Regions from separate parts of the Homo sapiens genome. Here all the other regions are linked to region 4. The links come from fine-mapping of genetic effects on gene expression. A gene starts in region 4. Each other region holds a variant in brackets. All regions are shown on one strand. Distances are between the middles of the regions. Region 1 has its middle 28 kb from the start of GCOM1. Region 2 overlaps GCOM1 (GCOM1, MYZAP-POLR2M combined locus). Region 3 overlaps GCOM1 (GCOM1, MYZAP-POLR2M combined locus). Region 4 holds the start of GCOM1 (GCOM1, MYZAP-POLR2M combined locus).

Evidence for each region. PIP is the estimated chance that this variant, and not a neighbour inherited with it, causes the effect.
Region 1: its variant is fine-mapped to the expression of GCOM1 in whole blood (TOPMed, PIP above 0.99). The same link has a PIP of 0.9 or more in blood mononuclear cells and lung.
Region 2: its variant is fine-mapped to the expression of GCOM1 in whole blood (INTERVAL, PIP 0.98).
Region 3: its variant is fine-mapped to the expression of GCOM1 in skeletal muscle (GTEx, PIP above 0.99). The same link has a PIP of 0.9 or more in adrenal gland.

The regions. Positions count from the first base shown.
Region 1 is chr15:57,561,266-57,565,564 of GRCh38, reverse strand. No RefSeq gene overlaps it. Among named protein-coding and RNA genes, the nearest start is that of GCOM1, 28 kb to the left of the region's middle. The variant C/A (reference allele first, on the strand shown) is at 2,003.
Region 2 is chr15:57,626,496-57,630,794 of GRCh38, reverse strand. It overlaps GCOM1 (GCOM1, MYZAP-POLR2M combined locus), which reads right to left. Exons shown (of 17, transcript NR_104371.3): 6 at 941-1,093. It overlaps MYZAP (myocardial zonula adherens protein), which reads right to left. Exons shown (of 13, transcript NM_001018100.5): 6 at 941-1,093. Among named protein-coding and RNA genes, the nearest start is that of MYZAP, 37 kb to the right of the region's middle. The variant G/A (reference allele first, on the strand shown) is at 1,764.
Region 3 is chr15:57,632,496-57,636,794 of GRCh38, reverse strand. It overlaps GCOM1 (GCOM1, MYZAP-POLR2M combined locus), which reads right to left. Exons shown (of 17, transcript NR_104371.3): 7 at 4,236-4,299; 8 at 3,054-3,182. MYZAP (myocardial zonula adherens protein) reads right to left here. Exons shown (of 13, transcript NM_001018100.5): 7 at 4,236-4,299; 8 at 3,054-3,182. Among named protein-coding and RNA genes, the nearest start is that of MYZAP, 43 kb to the right of the region's middle. The variant C/G (reference allele first, on the strand shown) is at 2,382.
Region 4 is chr15:57,590,145-57,594,443 of GRCh38, reverse strand. It overlaps GCOM1 (GCOM1, MYZAP-POLR2M combined locus), which reads right to left and starts at 2,540. Exons shown (of 17, transcript NR_104371.3): 1 at 2,335-2,540. MYZAP (myocardial zonula adherens protein) reads right to left here and starts at 2,540. Exons shown (of 13, transcript NM_001018100.5): 1 at 2,335-2,540. The coding sequence starts at 2,409. RefSeq lists a silencer at 2,542-2,651.

The DNA.
Region 1 (4,299 bases), 29 kb after region 4:
ACGAGGGGGCCTTCCTGAGAGAGCAAGGAAGTGGGGCGGGAGATATCCCTGCTGACGAAAGAGACAAAACCACATCCAGCCAGGGGCTGCTGTTGCAGTATGGAGTTCCCCTCCGCGATGTGAGCAAACAGAAGAGAGAAAACGCCATCTCATGCCAGGATCCTTTCAAATAGGTCTCTTTCCCAGCCAAGCCTACTTTCTGCAACAGTTTTTCCCTTACATACGAAGCTTCTAGCAAAACACCCAGCATAGAGTGGGAGCTCAGTGAATATTTGTTTCATGAATTAATAGCAACATTTCTTATGATGGCAAACAAAAAATAAATAACTAAAATGTTCTACAATGACCTACTGGGTCATGCACATTTATGGTATGCCCATAACTAGGCAAGTCATTTAATATTTCTATGCATAATTTTTTTTGCTAAAATAGAGTAATAGTACCTATCTCACAGGGTTATTGTGATGATTAAATGAGCTTAGGTATATAAAACAAATAGAATATTGCATAGCATATAAAAATTACAAAACAAATGTTAACTATTAGTATTATTATTCCATGGAATACAGTGCAATTATTAAAACTGTGTTGAAAAAATATATTCTTTTGAAAAAAATTTTTGAGAAAATATCTTTTTATAGCTGAAAAAATTCACAATAATTTAAAAAAATAAGCTATGTAATAGCATAAACAGTAAGATTCCACATTTTGTGAAATAAACATCCATGTAAAGAAAAAAGTGTACACAAATATACATAAAAATATTTATAGTAGTTATTTCTAAATAGTGAAAGCAAGGGGGACTTTCTTTATTATTAATTGCTTATCTATTTTTCAACAGTCAGTATAAATTATTTGAGTAAGTATAAAAATTAAAAATCCAATTGAATCAGAAAAGCATTCATATTATTTGACACACTAATTCCAATTTGAGGATACTATTCTTTAAAAAAAGTCCCAAGTACCAAAGAAAATATTGCCTATAAGAATTAGGTAAAGTGCCAGGCGCGGTGGCTCACGCCTGTAATCCCAGCACTTTGGGAGGCCGAGGCAGGCGGATCAGGAGGTCAAGAGATCGAGACCATCCTGGCTAACACGGTGAAACCCCGTCTCTACGAAAAATACAAAAAAATTAGCTGGGCGTGGTGGCGGGCACCTGTATTCCCAGATACTCGGGAGGCTGAGGCAGGAGAATGGCATGAACCCCGGAGGCGGAGCTTGCAGTGATCCGAGATCGCGCCATTGCACTCCAGCCTGGGTGACAGAGCGAGACTCTGTCTCAAAACAAACAAACAAACAAACAAGAATTAGGTAAAGTGTGATGATTTTTCTATAAATTATAGAATAATATATAATGAGTTTAAAAGATTGATGTTCAAAATAGGCGTCAAAAAGCATTAGAGTAACGCTTGAAAATATTAGAAAATGCTATCTATATTAAGTTAACTGGGATACAAATGACTAGTATCTGATCTCAAGCATATAACAAAAGTAATCATTGGCAGAAACAATAGCTGACTCTCTGCCCTTTGTTGAAGTTAACTATATTTGTCACCTTTTGACCAGAACAAGGTGGATTCTTTCTCAACAATTTACAAATTAGCCAGAAACCCCTAAACTTAATAGAACTTCAGTTCTTCCAGGTGGAGGGTTGTCCTGTGACATAAAACTAAAATCATTAAATCTATCCAGTCTAGGAAGAGAAAAGCCCAAGAGGAAATATGCTGTCCATGTATGAAATCATAAACGTTCAGGTAAATATAGCCCTGTTCATTTATCAAAATGTGAGACAAACAAAAGTTATTTTAATTCTATCAGTATTTGTCAGGCACCTGCTACAAACAAAGATGAATAATGAGACAGACTTTGTCCCGGAGAAGCTCACCACCTAATGATGTAGGAAAAAATAACTATAATCAGCTAACCACAGTCCGGAAGCGCTGCAAGAGAACAAAAGACCACAGGAGCCCAGGGAAGGGGGAAGTTTGGATTTGAAGCATCA[C/A]CTGGGACGTAACCTTGATGCTAAACCTTTACACTAAAGCATGAACATGGTTTTGGTAACCGGCAGACTGAATGGTCAAATTCTAAGCAGGGATGCCGTCCTTCACTGAACCACTGATGGGCACTGGGGGTAGCTGATCACTCTTAGGGCTGTGTCCCTGTGCACTTGCAGAATGTGTCAGCATCTCAAGTTGACAACTTCTTGAGAAGTTGAGGGAATGATGTGGAAGAAGGAAAAGAGCTCAACAGCCCAAATCCAAGAAGCAGATCTTTAAGCGCAATGCAGTGTTTTAAAGCCTGCTATAGGAGTACATGAGAGGGGGACCACACTTAAGCACAGCCCATTTAAAATGCTTTAATTGCCTATCTGTGCAATAAGACTGAACCAAATGAATATTGACAAATCCGCTAACATAATCTAGTCTTGCCTTGCATTTATAAAGGTTAGGACCCAGAATTATAATGTTCTGTTTAATTTCAAATGCCTGCTGTCTGACAGGGGCTTTCTCCCGAGAGAGAAAGGCGTGGTTCTTTCCCTCAAGGGGCTCCCACCCTGGTGTGAAGAGACACACACATCACAATGTCAAAGCCTCGAGGGAGGCACGGGCCTGCCTGGGGATAGCCAGAAGGTCCTGCTCCCACCAGCACCTTCACTTTTAGAGCAAGGAGGGAGTGACCAGCATGGACTAGACAGAGGGGGAGAGGTCAGGAGTTAACTCACAACCAATGTTAAAAATGGACTTAAAGAAGAAAAGGATGTTAGCCTGGAGAAGAAAGAACTTAGAAGGGGCCTAAGAGCCTTTTTGACTATAGAGCCACAATGAGGAAAATGGGGAGAGTGGGTCAGTGCCACACATCCCCAGCAGCAGGCAGAGCAGAGATGATCACATCTAATATCACAATCACTTCTGAAATTCTACAAAAATCCACAAAAGAGAGTACAGGAAGAAACCACACACAGGGCCAACAAAGGATGGGATGAATTCAGGAAGATAGGAGAGTGGGGGATGAACTTCCACCGCTGGGTAATAAGGGAAGCAGGGACGTGAGGACAGACGTTCATGCCTTCCCACAGGAGGCCTTGGAGCTGCCGACAAGGCATCTCCCAGATGACGGAGCAGGCGTGGCAGGACGCCATCTCGCTCAGGGCAGCACCTGGTTAATGTCAGCACCGGGTCTGGTGAGGGCTGGTCTCTGCTGCGACATGGCAGGAAGTGTGCTGTGAGATCTGGTTAGAGGATGTCAAGAGGACCCCCTTGCCACAGCCTAACCAGTGTGTTCTGGACCCCACGTTTCCCTTTCCAAACTCTAATCCATCCTATCATTGCTCAGGGCTTTTTGATTCTGCTCCTTCCTCCCCTCCCCACACACATAGAACCTTTTATTCCAAAATCTAGCAGTACATCATTGGTTAGTAGAAAATAACTCTCAGAGCCGGGCGCGGTGGCTCACGCCTGTAATCCCAGCACTTTGGGAGGCCTAGGTGGGTGGATCACTTGAGATCAGGAGTTCGAGACCAGCCTGACCAACATGGAGAAACCCCGTCTCTACCAAAAAATATAAAATTAGCCAGGCATGGTGTCGCATGCCTCTAATCCCAGCTACTCAGGAGGCTGAGGCAGGAGTATCACTTGAACCTGGCAGGTGGAAGTTGTGGTGAGCCGACATCGCACCATTGCACTCCAGCCTGGGCAACAAGAGTGAAACTCCTTCTAAAAAAAAAAAAAAGGAAGAAAAAGAAAATAACTCTCATAACTTAAAAACAAAAATCAACAAACAAACCCCCCCCTCAAAAAAAAATCCTATAACATAAACTTCCCAACCATCTAAAAACCCAAACTCAAAACGTGTTTCTTTTGTCTTCCCTTCTTGAAGGAAGTAGGTCTGCACGGGCCTCCCCATCTCCTAGAGCTCGTACACAGCTATGAACCTGCTCTCAACAATGACTGGACACTTCCTCTTGGTTCATGGAAAAATTTGCTCGTAATTTTCCAGTCTGACTCAAGCTATCAGCTGGCGATACAGTTTTTTGCCAGCTTTACAGTCATTACATTACTCAAACAGAAACCCTTTTGCAGGTGACCTTGAAAGTTATTAAAAACTATTCTCTTTTTGAAGGAAGGACTTGTTGGGGGCGCCTGGTAGAGAGAGGATGTCTCGACTGGGTCTGGTGGTGACGACATCCTGGAAAAGGAACAAGATCCAAGTCACCAATCATTCTCTTATACAACGCATCCTTGAATTTTGAAGAGCCTGATATTGTGGATGGTTTGTATTGTCATTTGGCAGCAAAAATAA
Region 2 (4,299 bases), 36 kb before region 4:
CAAAATTTTCAAACCACAGACTTACATAAAAAGGAATTCATCCAAGATATAATTTATTAAGTGCCCTCCAGGAGCCATTCATGGATCTGCTCCTGTCACCGGGTAGGAAGTCTATCCACAGTTTAAATTTGGGAGGGGCACTAATGCCTCTAGGGCATTAGAAGTTCAGCTAAGGAATGCTCCCAGCCTAGGGGGCCAAATGGGACATTCCCCAGTGTCCCTAGTCACCCACCAATTTTCTTCTTGAGAATATTGTACTTGGGGTACAGCCCAAGTACCAGCTATTTGTGTGCCCCTCAGCTCTTTATTGTCAAGCCAAACAGAAAGGCCTTGGGACCTCAAAGAAAATCTAAACAGTGAAGGAAGAGATCTCCAAGGCTTCTGACGTCCCAGATCTGTGGGCATCCCAAGCGTCTTCTCAGTTACATAACAACAGCACCATGGTGAGTGTCTAAAGAGCCCTTGAAGGGACTGGAGGCCAAGAAAGGCATGCCCAATGGGGGCATTTATGGAGAAGCCCCAAACTGGGCCAAGCACGGTGGCTCACGCCTGTCATCCCAGCACTTTGGGAGGCCAAGGCAGGCGGATCACCTGAGGTCAGGAGTTCGAGACCAGCCTGGCCAACATGGTGAAACCCCTTCTCTACTAAAAATACAAAAATTACTGGGCAAGGTGGCACGTGCCTGTAATTCCAGCTACTCAGGAGGCTGAGGCACGAGAATTGCTTGAACCCAGGAGGCGGAGGTTGCAGTGAGCCATGATTGTACCACTGCACTCCAGCCTGGGTGACAGAGTGAGACTCTGTCTCAAAAAAAAAAAAAAATCCAATGAAGAAGAGAATGGAGAAAAGGAAATGGAAAGGTTGAAGATGGGAAGAGAAAAGGGAGAAGTAAAGAGGAGAAAAGTTCATAGAAAATAAATCTAGGCTTTTATACTCCACCTTCATTTTTAGCAGCTGGTTTTCAACTTGCGCTACCTCCAACTGCCTCTGCTTTTCCCTCAGCTTGTCCATGGATGCTTCATACGTCTGCTGCAGATTTCTGATTTGATCCTTAATGTTGCTGTTTTCCAAAGTCACATCCACGAGGGTTTTCTGTGAGGATGAAAATAAAAACAAAACCAGATCCGGTGGCGTGAAAACACATGGGCTGCACCACATGCTGGGGCATCCCCTTATCATTAAGCACTGGGGTAGCTGTCCTAGGCTACAGCAACTGCCAGTCTGGGACCCTGTGCTGTGAGGGACTGTGGGTCTCCCATGGTGGCCAAGAGGTCTGCCCCTGTAGCTTGGAGGGACTGAAAACCTCTCCCATACCATCCCATAGCTGCTGCCAACACCACTTGCCACTGCTTAGGATGGATGGAAATGGATTAAAATGGAGTCCTTCCAAGGAAAAGTATTATAATACATCATTTCACATGGGAAAAAAAACAGCTTTTGAAAATAGTAAGTATAGTATAATCCCATTTTGAAAAATATGTATAAGCATTGGTTCAAATATATGTTTATGCACTGGGGGGAAAAAGACCAGGAGGAAATCTGAATGATAGTTTTCACTATGTGATAGGGCTATGGGTATCTATTTTCTTATTTATTTTTTCTGTATTTCCCAAATTGCCACAATGAAATCAGAAAACAAAATACGAGCTTTATAGAATAGAGATATTCCTCTTTTTATTCTTTTTCTTTTTTTTTTTTTTTTTTTGTTTTTGAGACAGAGCCTTACTCTGTCGCCCAGACTGGAGTGCAGTGGCACGATCTC[G/A]GCTCACTGCAACCTCTGCCTCCCAGGTTCAAGCGATTCTCCTGCCTCAGCCTCCCGAGTAGCTGGGACTACAGGCGCCTGCCACCACGCCTGGCTAATTTTTGTATTTTTAGTGGAGATGGGGTTTCACCGTATTGGCCAGGCTGGTCTCGAACTCCTGACCTCGTGATCCACCTGACTCGGCCTCCCAAAGTGCTGGGATTACAGGCGTGAGCCACCACGCCCGGCCTCCCTTTTTTCTTAAAAGAGCTATCCCTTCTGCGCTTCTAGACTGCCTGCCAGGATAGTGACAATGTGACTGAGAATACTCACATACCTGCAAACATTTCACCTTCCTCCCTTAGGCAGAGAAGGGTAGTAATAAAGAAGTACTAAGGAACAGAATTTGGTAATGCAGACAAGTGATTTTTGCTCCAAGCCGCACAAGTAATTTTTGCTCCAGGCCGCACTGAAGCAAGGATGTTTAAATCAATAGTGTTGGCCATGCGTGATGGCTCATGACTGTAATCCCAGCACTTTGGGAGGCTGAGGTGGGAGGAGCACCTGAGCCTGGAGTTCAAGACTAGCCTGGGCAACTACAAAAAAAATTTAAAAACCAGCTAGACATGGTTGTGTGTACCTGTAGCCCCAGCTACCCAGGAGGCTGAGGCATGAGGATCACTTGAGCCTAGGAGGTCAAGGCTGCAGTGAACTATATCACACTGCTGCACTCCAGCCTGCGCAACAGAGCAAGACCCCATCTCTAAAAAAATAATAAAAAAGAAAAAGAAAAAAATGGTGGTGCTATTTACTGCTTTGGTTTCTACTTGGTTAACTCTCCTTAGAGATAAATGGCCTCCACAGAATCTGTGCCGTTGGAAAGTCATCTTCTACTGTGTCCCCAGTCATCTACAATTTCACATTAGAAGATGTGAAAACCCTGGTGTTGGGCACTGTTTCTAACACCTCTGTGCTCTTGTCTAGATGATCAGTCTCTGAAGCTTCCTCAATTCCTCAGCCTCTACTTTGGACAATATAAGCCTTTCACTCCTAAACCTACTTGAATCAAGAAAAAGAATTTCTGAAGGAGGTGATTAGATACTAAAGAAAATACTGAAGCTATTTGGAAGCATGGAGTCACAGAACATTTGAGCTTCAAGGGGCTTTAGAAACCACCTAGACCAGCCACCCACTCCCCCAGCCCCACTGGCTTCACAGATTCTACTCGTGTATCCACACAAAAACCTACACTCTGGTCCAAGAGACCAGGATTTTTCTAATCCTGGCTCTGTCACTAGGTAGGCATCTTGCTCATGTCATTTCTCTCTGTCGGCCTCAGTTTGTCTATTCATAAAACTGAGATCCTCTCAGTTCTTTCTAGCTCTGACATTCTATGGAATCAAACCAAGGGTCTGGTCTCCCTGTCAATAATAATGAAAGTGGACAGAGTGGGCCAGTGGAAGAGGCTGGGGTCTTGCATAAGGAAGAAGCCAGCTCTCTTCAGACTCGGTCCACCAGGTACTCGAGTGGTCCTCAGCATCAGTGCCTAACACCGTGCATCAGCCCTCTTCCTCTACCAGGTTGAGTTTCCTGCTGTGAGATGGCTTCTCCTTCTCCTTCTCCTCCTCCTCCTCCTCCCCCTTCCCCTCCCCTCCCCCTCCCCCTCCCCCTCCCTCTCCCTCTCTCTTTGTCTCTCTCTTTCTGTTTCTCTCAGCGGTTTTAGCTATAAGGCTCCTTTGGCTGTCCAGGACTAAGAGCCTGCATGATAACTAGGAATCAGTCAAGGTGCCTGGGTCAGAGCTGGCCCAGCTCAAACAGCTGACCTCTGCAGTAAATGCCAGAGTGTTGGCCAGATGGCAAAGCACAAGAATTGCCAGAAAATACTGGCAAATATATTTTTCTTTCTGGGAAGAAAAACCAGAGATGTAGTACAAATACCGACTAAGTCTGAACTCAGGTGAGATAAAGCCCTTGCTGGTGGGCTGGGAATGAGACAGCGTCCGAAAGGGGAGGAAAGGGAGCCTTGGCAAGCCCCCCCGACCACAGGAGGAAGGGAAAACAAAGGCTGCTGAGCAAACCAGACCCAGTGGGGCTTGGCCTGAGGCCAGGGGAAAGCTGGCATACACTCAAGAGAGCCAGGAAAAGGGTGGGACTCAGAAGCCCCACCAGAAATGGGCATCGCAGATGACCCCAAACACGAGGCCACCCAGACCCACTCCAGGACAGTGGCCGAGCCCTGCTGTTGTCACTGCTGCCATACCAACTGTTATCAGAGAATTAGGGGAAGTGGAGAATCCCAACATGAAAATTTATTTATCTAAAATTACTTATATAGAACCAGAAAGGATTTGAAATAGGTTTTGGAACTTTTGAGAGGAGGATAAAAAGATAAGAGCCAAATAAATTTGGAGGAGAGGTAAAAACTGTTGTTCATACATTTGGAAATGAAGACCAAGGGAAGCTATTTCAAATACATACAATGCTTTGCTTTGAACATTTTCAAATTAATTTGCATGTTAGGGGACTTGTAAGAGTAAGAATGGGAAGCACTTGAAGG
Region 3 (4,299 bases), 42 kb before region 4:
TTGTACACTTTGCTATATATATGTATATTTAGAAGTTTGCCCAAAAAAGAGTCTGGAATCATTTCTTTGGACAAAGCTGAAAAATGTTCATAAAAACATGGTGCCTGTCATAACCGAAATTGTGCTAAAAATACATTACAGATGTTAGTGTAACAAATTTCCTTAAAATGCAAGTTTATCAAATAACGCTCACTAATTGGGAGATTATTTTACTTTAGGTCCTTCTCTAAGAACTAATGTTCCTCATCTTTATGTTCGGAAATTCCACCCAGCAAACTCTTACTAGCTACATAGATTCCAAACCTCTTTTCTACCAAATTATTAAAAGCAAATCTTTGAAAATTTAACTGCCACAACTTCTGAAGCTATAAGCAGTGGTATACCAAGAGGTAGGCCAAAGGGGTGGGGAAGCAGTCCACCTTAAGCAGGAAGAATATATTATCTCTGAAATATTTAAAATAACAAAGGTAGATCAACTTTGACTGGGGTTTTGTTACTGTTTTTAAATCTCTACAGCAAATGCACATTCTTATGGCCTGGCCTGAGCAGAACATTCCTCCTGCCCCTATGTGGTTGGAAGTTTTACATTAGCCCCGAAATAACAGTGATAAAAGCTTTCACAAGTGAATGCCTCCCTCCAAAAAGAAAAAAAAAACAAAAAACAAGAAAGAAAAAGGCTGTCATAAAGTAGAGCAAGGTCTAACTTACAGCACACTTTTAAAATTTGTTTTAAATTGAGGTACAATAAATCTTAAGTGTACACTGCACAATTATTTCTTACATTTGTAAACACCTGTGAAACCACTGCCCAGATTATGGCATAGACTATTATCTGTTCCCCAGAAGGGTCCCTGGTAGAGAACACTCCTTAAAAGATTTTTACTGATCAGAAAAAAAGGTGTTTGAAATACAGTGCTCAGCAAGAGAAACAGTAAACTAAGGCATATGGCAGAGAAGCCATTCAAAAGCACATGGTTTGTCCTTGAGCAAAATCCAAAACTGAGAGCAGGATACGTACACTGCCACAGCCCTGCCTAGGACATGCCGTTCACGTAGTGTGAGACAGCGATTTGGCCAGATTCCTGCTCTCACAGATTTATCCCTGAAAAGGAAACAGTGTAAATTGGCCTACCTAATGTTAGTTCAATAAATAGAGCATTTCTCTAGCCTAAATGGAAAGGAAGATTTAGAGAAAGGACAATACATTTCCAATCACTAAAGAAGAAGCCAACACCACTTGGGGAAGGTTTTGTGTTTCCTAAATGCTGGCAGGGAGGGCTGGCCTTACCAGCTTCCTGGCTCTACCCATTCATCCCACATGAGGGCTCCATGTGAAAATCAGTGGGGAAAGACAAGAAACTTTCAGAACCTCAAGACAGCAATGAAGATAAGCATAAAATGGGTCGTGCTAAAGACAACCTGACTCTGAGGGTAGACATTTAGGCAACCTCGTAACAGAGTAAAAATCATAGCCACAAATGATCGAACCCTTACTATATACGAGGAACCATGCTTAGCACTTGGCGTGGATTTTTCTCATTTATTGCTCACAAAAGCCCTAAGAATAAGAAGTACCATTATCAGCATTTTACAGAAGTGGAGACTGAGTTAGGAAAAACCAAGTAAGTGCAAACAACTACAAAGAGACACAAGATTCAAATCCCCAGACTGTCTGATTCTAAAGCCTATGTTCATGACCACTACCTGTGGTTTCTCTGTATGACGGCATCTCCCCCAGACCACCCTGCTATGCTGCCGGCTCACCTTGCTTCTTTACGCTGCAGAAAAACCTGCTGCCCAGAGAGAGAGCATCTGAGTTAACTGGGATCTTCTGCTGTTGTAGGAGGACAATAATGTGGGAGGAAGCTCACTCAAGCTCTAGAAAGCTCCCTTGTTGCCCAATCTTCACCACCACCCCCTCTGGTCAATACTAATGTTAGTCCTGACTAAGCCAATCACCTACTCTTCAATAAAAGATGGGATTCTGTTTTCCCAGGGGGTAGAAGGGAGATTGTAATTGACTCTTTAGTTTGCCCAAGTCTCTCCCAAGTAAAAAGCTAAAGAGCTAAAACGAAGCACCCAGTGAGCTCTGAAGCTCCACAGAACTGAATTTCATGCAGTTCCCATAGTGGCGACACCTCGCCTTATGAGGGGACAGTACAGGGGCTTATGCTGCAAACACCATTAGCTAAGGCGACCTCTTCTCAGCATCACATGAAGCCTGACAGTGACCTTGCTCTTGCTGCCCCACCTCTGCCTCCATCATCAGATTGGAGATTCTTGGCATCCCGAATGAGTCACAGGGTGCTAATAATGTCAGGGTCTTGGCAGGTCACTGCTCTCTGCAAACTCATATGCAGCCAGGGAGCCATTCCCAGAAA[C/G]CAGCCACAGACTTGGCCCTGAACTCCTGGGTCCAGAAGTCAGCCGTCACCTGCTAAAGGTCACCCATCCTTTCTCTTCCTTCTCTTCCTTCTTTTCCTCTTTCCTTTCTCCCACCACTTCCTCCCCTTCCTCCACTTCCTACTTAATTCCTGGCCTCTTCCCTTTCACTAGACAGGCTTCATTATCCCAGCTGAGCTCCCGCCTTCCTCAGGTTCCCCCACCACACTCACCAGCCTGCTTACAACACCTAGAGAAATGGGGCCTCCCTACTCTCTCAAGTCCCCAGCGTGTCAAGGAAAAGCCAACCCTTGAGACACATGCCCCAGAAACAACAGGGCTGCTGTGTTGATGTAACACCTAAATAGGGCTTGATAATTCAATGGATAAACTAAGTTCACACCTGGGGCACCAGCAAAGCAAGGCTGCTAAAATATTAATTTTTCTAAAGAATTTCACAAGTAATATTTTTTAAAAGCATCAAAATAGTTATCATGGGAAAAATGAGAACGTTGTTGGACTTCCTTATACTTTATTTTATAGCTTTGTCTTTTTTTTTTTAATTGCAAATTTTGGAGGTGAGAGGAATCCATATCCAGGGCCTCTCGTATCTCAGATGGACCTACAGGGAAAAGTTTGGGCAAGTGGGCAATAGGCCCAACGCTGTGTCCTACCTTTTCCATGCGCTCAATCAGCCTGTCCAGCTCCCCGATCCTCTGGTCTTTCTCCTCTAGGCTGATCTCTGCTGCTTGCATCTTTTTATTGGCTTCTTCAATCGCTTTCAGAAAACTATTGGTTTCTTCCTGCAAAAGAAATATACCCTCCTAAGTACAGGCATGGAGTACCGAGGCTACTCACCGGGATCCAATCAGCTCAGGCCTTGCTAGATCACGATTTCTCTTTAAAACATGACCTTGGAACCTGAAAGTGTCTCACAGATCATGAACTCAACCTCACGGTTCTGGTTCTCACCTATGAATAAAGATACATCATGTGGCTGGTTAATGGGCCTCACTACATTTTTTTCCCTTTTTTCCCTTAAGTCTTTATATCCAAAAGGTGTAAAAGAGGCCTACAAATGTTTAATAACATTGAGTAGATGCTCAGAATGTCACTGTATTTGCCAGAAGTGTAAGGGAATTAGAACCAGATCTGGAATTGAATGCAGAATTCCCAGATCCTTCTCCCATAATGCAATACATCAGCTCATTACTAACAAGAAAACCCAGTCAATCATCAGAACATGTATTAAGCCTCTACGGACACAGATGAGCCAGACATGGAGTCCCCGCCTTCAGGAACTTATAATCTCCTGGAAAAGCCAAGATGTGAGACGCACAGCCCCACTCTAATGGCAGGTATAAAAGAATTCCAAAGTAAAAGCAGAGAGAGAGTGAGTGAGCTTCCTAAGGACAGATAATGGTTCTGGCTCCATGACTGGAAGAGACTCCAGGCATGGAGAGAGTGGCATTTAAGGCTTTTAGGGAGCTTAGGCAAGATCAAAGATAGGGAAGGAGGAAATTTCAGGTAGAGAGAACCAAATGGAGGGAGGGAGGGCACAGCTGCGGGCAAGCCCAGGGTTTGCTTAGATGCTGGCAAATTGTCAGATGAGCTAGAAAAAGGTGTGTATTTAGAGACAGAGACAAGGGGCTATTCTGAGTAGAGACGGGGATGAATAAAGGCAGAGGGGAAGAGGGGAGGGGAGTGAATGAGCAGATGAATAATTCCTTGATCCCTTACCCATGGCTGAGTCTACTGACCCACCTCTAAGAATAAACACTACTACGTATACATCACCAACAATAATGAACCAACAATTCCCGGTAAGTTTACATCGGCAGCTACAACACACACACCAAAAGAGCCTCCTTCTCAGCACTGTGCTTCCTCTGTTCTTCCTGCAGCTTCTCCTCATACTGG
Region 4 (4,299 bases):
GCAAGATTAAACTCAAACATCACCAGTAGGCGGGGCTGGGTGGCTCATGCCTATAATCCCAGCACTTTGGGAGGCCGAGGCAGTTGTATCACTTGAGGTCAGGAGTTCAAGACCAGGCTGGCCAAGATGACAAAACCCTGTCTCCACTAAAAATACAAAAATTAGCCAAGCATGGTGGTGTGCGCCTGTAGTCCCAGCTACTCGGAAGGCTGAGGCAGGAGGACTGCTTGAACCTGGGAGGTGGAGGCTGCAGTGAGCCGAGATCGTGCCATGGCACTCCAGCCTGGATGACAAAGTGAGACTCCATCTCAAAAAAACATACCTTTAGTGAGAGGCCTTCCCCTGATGCCTCAGGAAGAACCTTTATTTTAGCTTCTACAGAACTTTGTAAACTCTTCACCCCACTATAACCATCACCACTTTGTTTGATGTTAGTTTGGGAAAATGTCTGCCTCTACAGGTAGGGCGGACCCCAATGCCAGCCCTTTACCACACAGAGAAAGGTTTATGAATGTTCAATAAATCAATTAATCAACATCTCACAGCTTCCCACCACACACACAATCCCCAGCACACACACAGATAGTACTTGTAACATCTGCAAATCATGAGCAGAGCTAGAAACCATAAAGATGGGCAGAACCCTAGACCCTTTAGATACCTTCCTTCCAGAAACAAGTACCAGTGTACCCAGGACAGCCCTGAATGGCCTGATCCCGAGCCCTGAGTTCTCCAGTCCAAAATACGTCTGCCATCTTATTCAAAAGGCAAAGTCTTTTCAAGAGTGTCACAATGTGTCCGACAGCAAAGCACCTATAATTAAATAAATATTCCAAAGGAAACGTTTGACCCAAAATCTTCAGAAATGTTATTTGTATACTAGTCACATTTGTATCAACCCACCGTATTAGGTTAGGTACCCCAACTAATCCCCACCTCTGGAAGGGAAGTTACAGAGAATTTCATGCAATTCATGCAGTCTGGTCACACATATGATCCTCTCAGGGCTCAGGGTTAGCTTTTCAGTGACTTCATTCTTTCTCAGTTGCAATTGTGTTCAAATTGAGAAAGATTTCCATAGAAAAATACAAACACCCAACTTAGAGTAAGGCCAGGACTGTGGTTGGAAACCCCCTTGGACCCAATGTAGATCTTACTCTATGATGCTAATGATTGGACAACTGGAGTTCTGTCAACCTTGGGCATGAGCCAACTGATGGATTCTGGGGTGTGTGTGTGTGTGTGTGTGTGTGTGCGCCTGTGTACACAACCTAAGTGTCTGGTGAGTGCACGCACACACACACCCCAGAATCCATCAGTTGGCCCATGCCCAAGAGTAACACACCTTTCTTCTAGAGCTAAGAAAGACAGCTTATAAGGTGACCACCATCACTCGCTTAAGGCATGTAAAAGCAAATAAGCAGGTCCAAGCCTGCACGCAGACAGAACCAGTGGGGGTTTTGCTTTGGACTTAACCACCTGTTTAAATCTTGAGGAAACACGATTACAGAAGTCTCAATCAGAGCAAAGAGGTACCAAATGATAAGTATTGAACATCATGATAAATGGAAGAACTAAAAAGCCACAAGCCAAGCCCCTGGCTGTGGCTCTAAGGTGCTGACCGTGTTAGAAAGATGGAGCATTTCTTTTACAGAGCATCTGGAGAGATGGGAAAAGATGCCACAAAGATCAAAAAGAAACAGCACTTCCAAAGGGAAACCTTCCCTGGAGATGCTGTCCCAAGCTTTCAGTGCTGCCATTGTTGTCACTGTGCTAATATTTAAATCAGACAGAAGAAAGTGGTTTACATAAACCGGAGTCCCACACAGTCGGGCTCCTGGGCGGCCGGCTGCTGTTCTGGTTTGCCCACCTTGGCTAACCCCACTCCAGAATTACCCTATCACTAGTGGATACCCTATCACTAGTGGACACAAGTGACCCCATCTTTCTTTTAATTAATGGAAGAAGGAAAGTTTGAGTTTTAAATACATTCATTACTTTTGAGTCTCAAGGTAGGGACACTGCACAAATGTCTTCCTTCATTTTTAAACTGGTGCCGCCAATAAACTCGGCTTGACAGAAAGGCAGGAAGGAGAGGAAATCTCTGGGAATTCCATAAAGTCCCCTAAGCCCTCTCCTACCAGCTGGTGGGCCCCCTGAAACCTCAAGCGGGAGGGTCACTGCCAGAGCCGGCACAGGACCGGGGAGTTGAGCCCAGGGTGGGGCGTCGGGGCCAGGTGCTGGCTCCCGAGCTTTCCCATCCCTAGTCCCCTCTAGAGGGGGCGGCCGGGATGGGGGAACGGGACGGCGGCGGCTCCCGCCCCCGCTACTCACCCTCCTGCTGGGCGCCCCGGGCGTCCTGGCGGCGCCGCCCGAGAGCAGGGTGACCGTGGACGTGGAGCGCAGCATCCCGCAGCGGCGGTCGGTAGCGGGCTGGACGCCGGCGTTCCTCCCGGGCAGAATAAGCGTGCGGGGCCCGCCCTGCGCGGGGGCGACGCGGGACGGCGCCGGCTACTTGCAGCCTCAGCTGCACCGCGAAGGCCCGGGGGTGGGGCCGGGGGCGGGGCCGGGCCGGGCCGGGGCGGGGCCGAGCGCGCTCACCCGACCCGTCAGGCTGCATTTTCTCCCGAGGGCGCCGACCCGGTTAAAGTTGAGCACCATCCTCTCCCAGGGCGCTGCGCCCTCCCAGGGTCAGTCCCAGGGCAAGAAGGAGCCCTGGACAGCCTGGACGCCCATGCTCTCTCTGTCCCCCGCAGAGTTGAGATCCACCTGCCCATTCAGTCTCACGACCTACCCCCACCCCGGACTGCCCCCTACAGCCTCTGCACGCCCTCGTATCACTGGGACCCTCACCCCATGTCATTCATTCAGTATTTCCTGAATGCCTATTATGCGTCCCCACCAGCAGCCAACCCAGTCGACTGGCTGTTGGCCTCGGAGAGTTTGCAGTGTGGTGGGGATGACAGGTGCCGGGCTGTGGTAGAAGAGGAGATACCATGTACTAAGGGAGCACACAGCCAACCTCAGAGGAGGTGATGACTAAGCTAAGACCTGAAATGCAAGTAGGAGTGGGCCACACTGCCCATATTTATTCAATGATTACTGTGGGCCTGCCTGGCGAGCACTTTGCGTGTGTTACCTCATTTAATCCTCACCATTGCCCTTTGAGGGAGTCACTGTTGTTACCTTGTATCCCCATTTTGCAGATGAAGACGCTGACTCACCTAGGGATTGAGCAACACAGCAGGCGACCCACTGGCCTCTCAGTGGCAAAGGTAGGATATGAATCCCCCAGTCCGACCCTAGTGCCTTGCTTGTCCCCTCTGCTGTCCCCTAACAGAGGGAGGAGGGAGTCCCAGGTCAAAAGAACTAGCATGCACAAAGATGGAAGGAAAGCAAGGGAAGGTATAAAATATGTTTCAAGAATTGGAAGTATCACAGTGCAGTGGGAAAACAGTGGAGAAGCAGCGGAAGGGAGCTGAGGACATCATGAGGAACCTGTGTGCTTAGCTGGAAATTTGGCCTTTATCTTGAGGACAAAGTGTTTTTCAGCAGGGAAAGACACAATCTCTGTCTTCAAAGCCCAGGTCAAGCACTGCCTCCCCACGGAGCTCTCCAGAAACCCCTTCCCCAAACACGCATGCTCAGGAACTTAGCAGCTCCGCGGGACCCTGTCTTCTGTTAGAGTTATCTATGTGTGTGCCTGTACCCTGTCCTTCTGGAGGGCAGAGGCCAGGCCTTGACCCTCTCTGAATGCCCAATGGCACCAACAGGGAAGATGCTGAAAAAAAAATGTTGCTAAACAGAATTACAGATGATCCTGTGGAACTCACTCCTTTTGTAGATGAGGAAACTGAGGCCGGTGTATACAAGTGACTTTCCCAAAGTTGCACAGCCTGTTCTTCACCATCCTCATCGTCATCCTCACAGTAGCTGTGCTTGTGTCCTAAGTGCTTTATATGCATTTTCTCAACCAATTCTCACAATGCCCCACAAGGTGGGCTACAGTTATCGCCCCTGTTTTGCAAATGAGGAAACTGAGGCCAGAGACATTAGGTTAATTGGTGAACAGCTGAGACTACACATCTAGTCTTCTAACCCAAGTCCTTCTGCTTTTCTGCTACACTCCTCTCTGCATCCTCCCATCCACCTATCCCTTCCAAAAAGAAAATTGTTCATGACAGGTTCCTTCCCATTCCACTTCCACGAAGCCCTCTAATCTACCCAAGTCTTTTTCATATTGTTAACATCCTATTCACACGGTGTTATATTTCTTTACAAAAGCAGCAGACAGCTCAC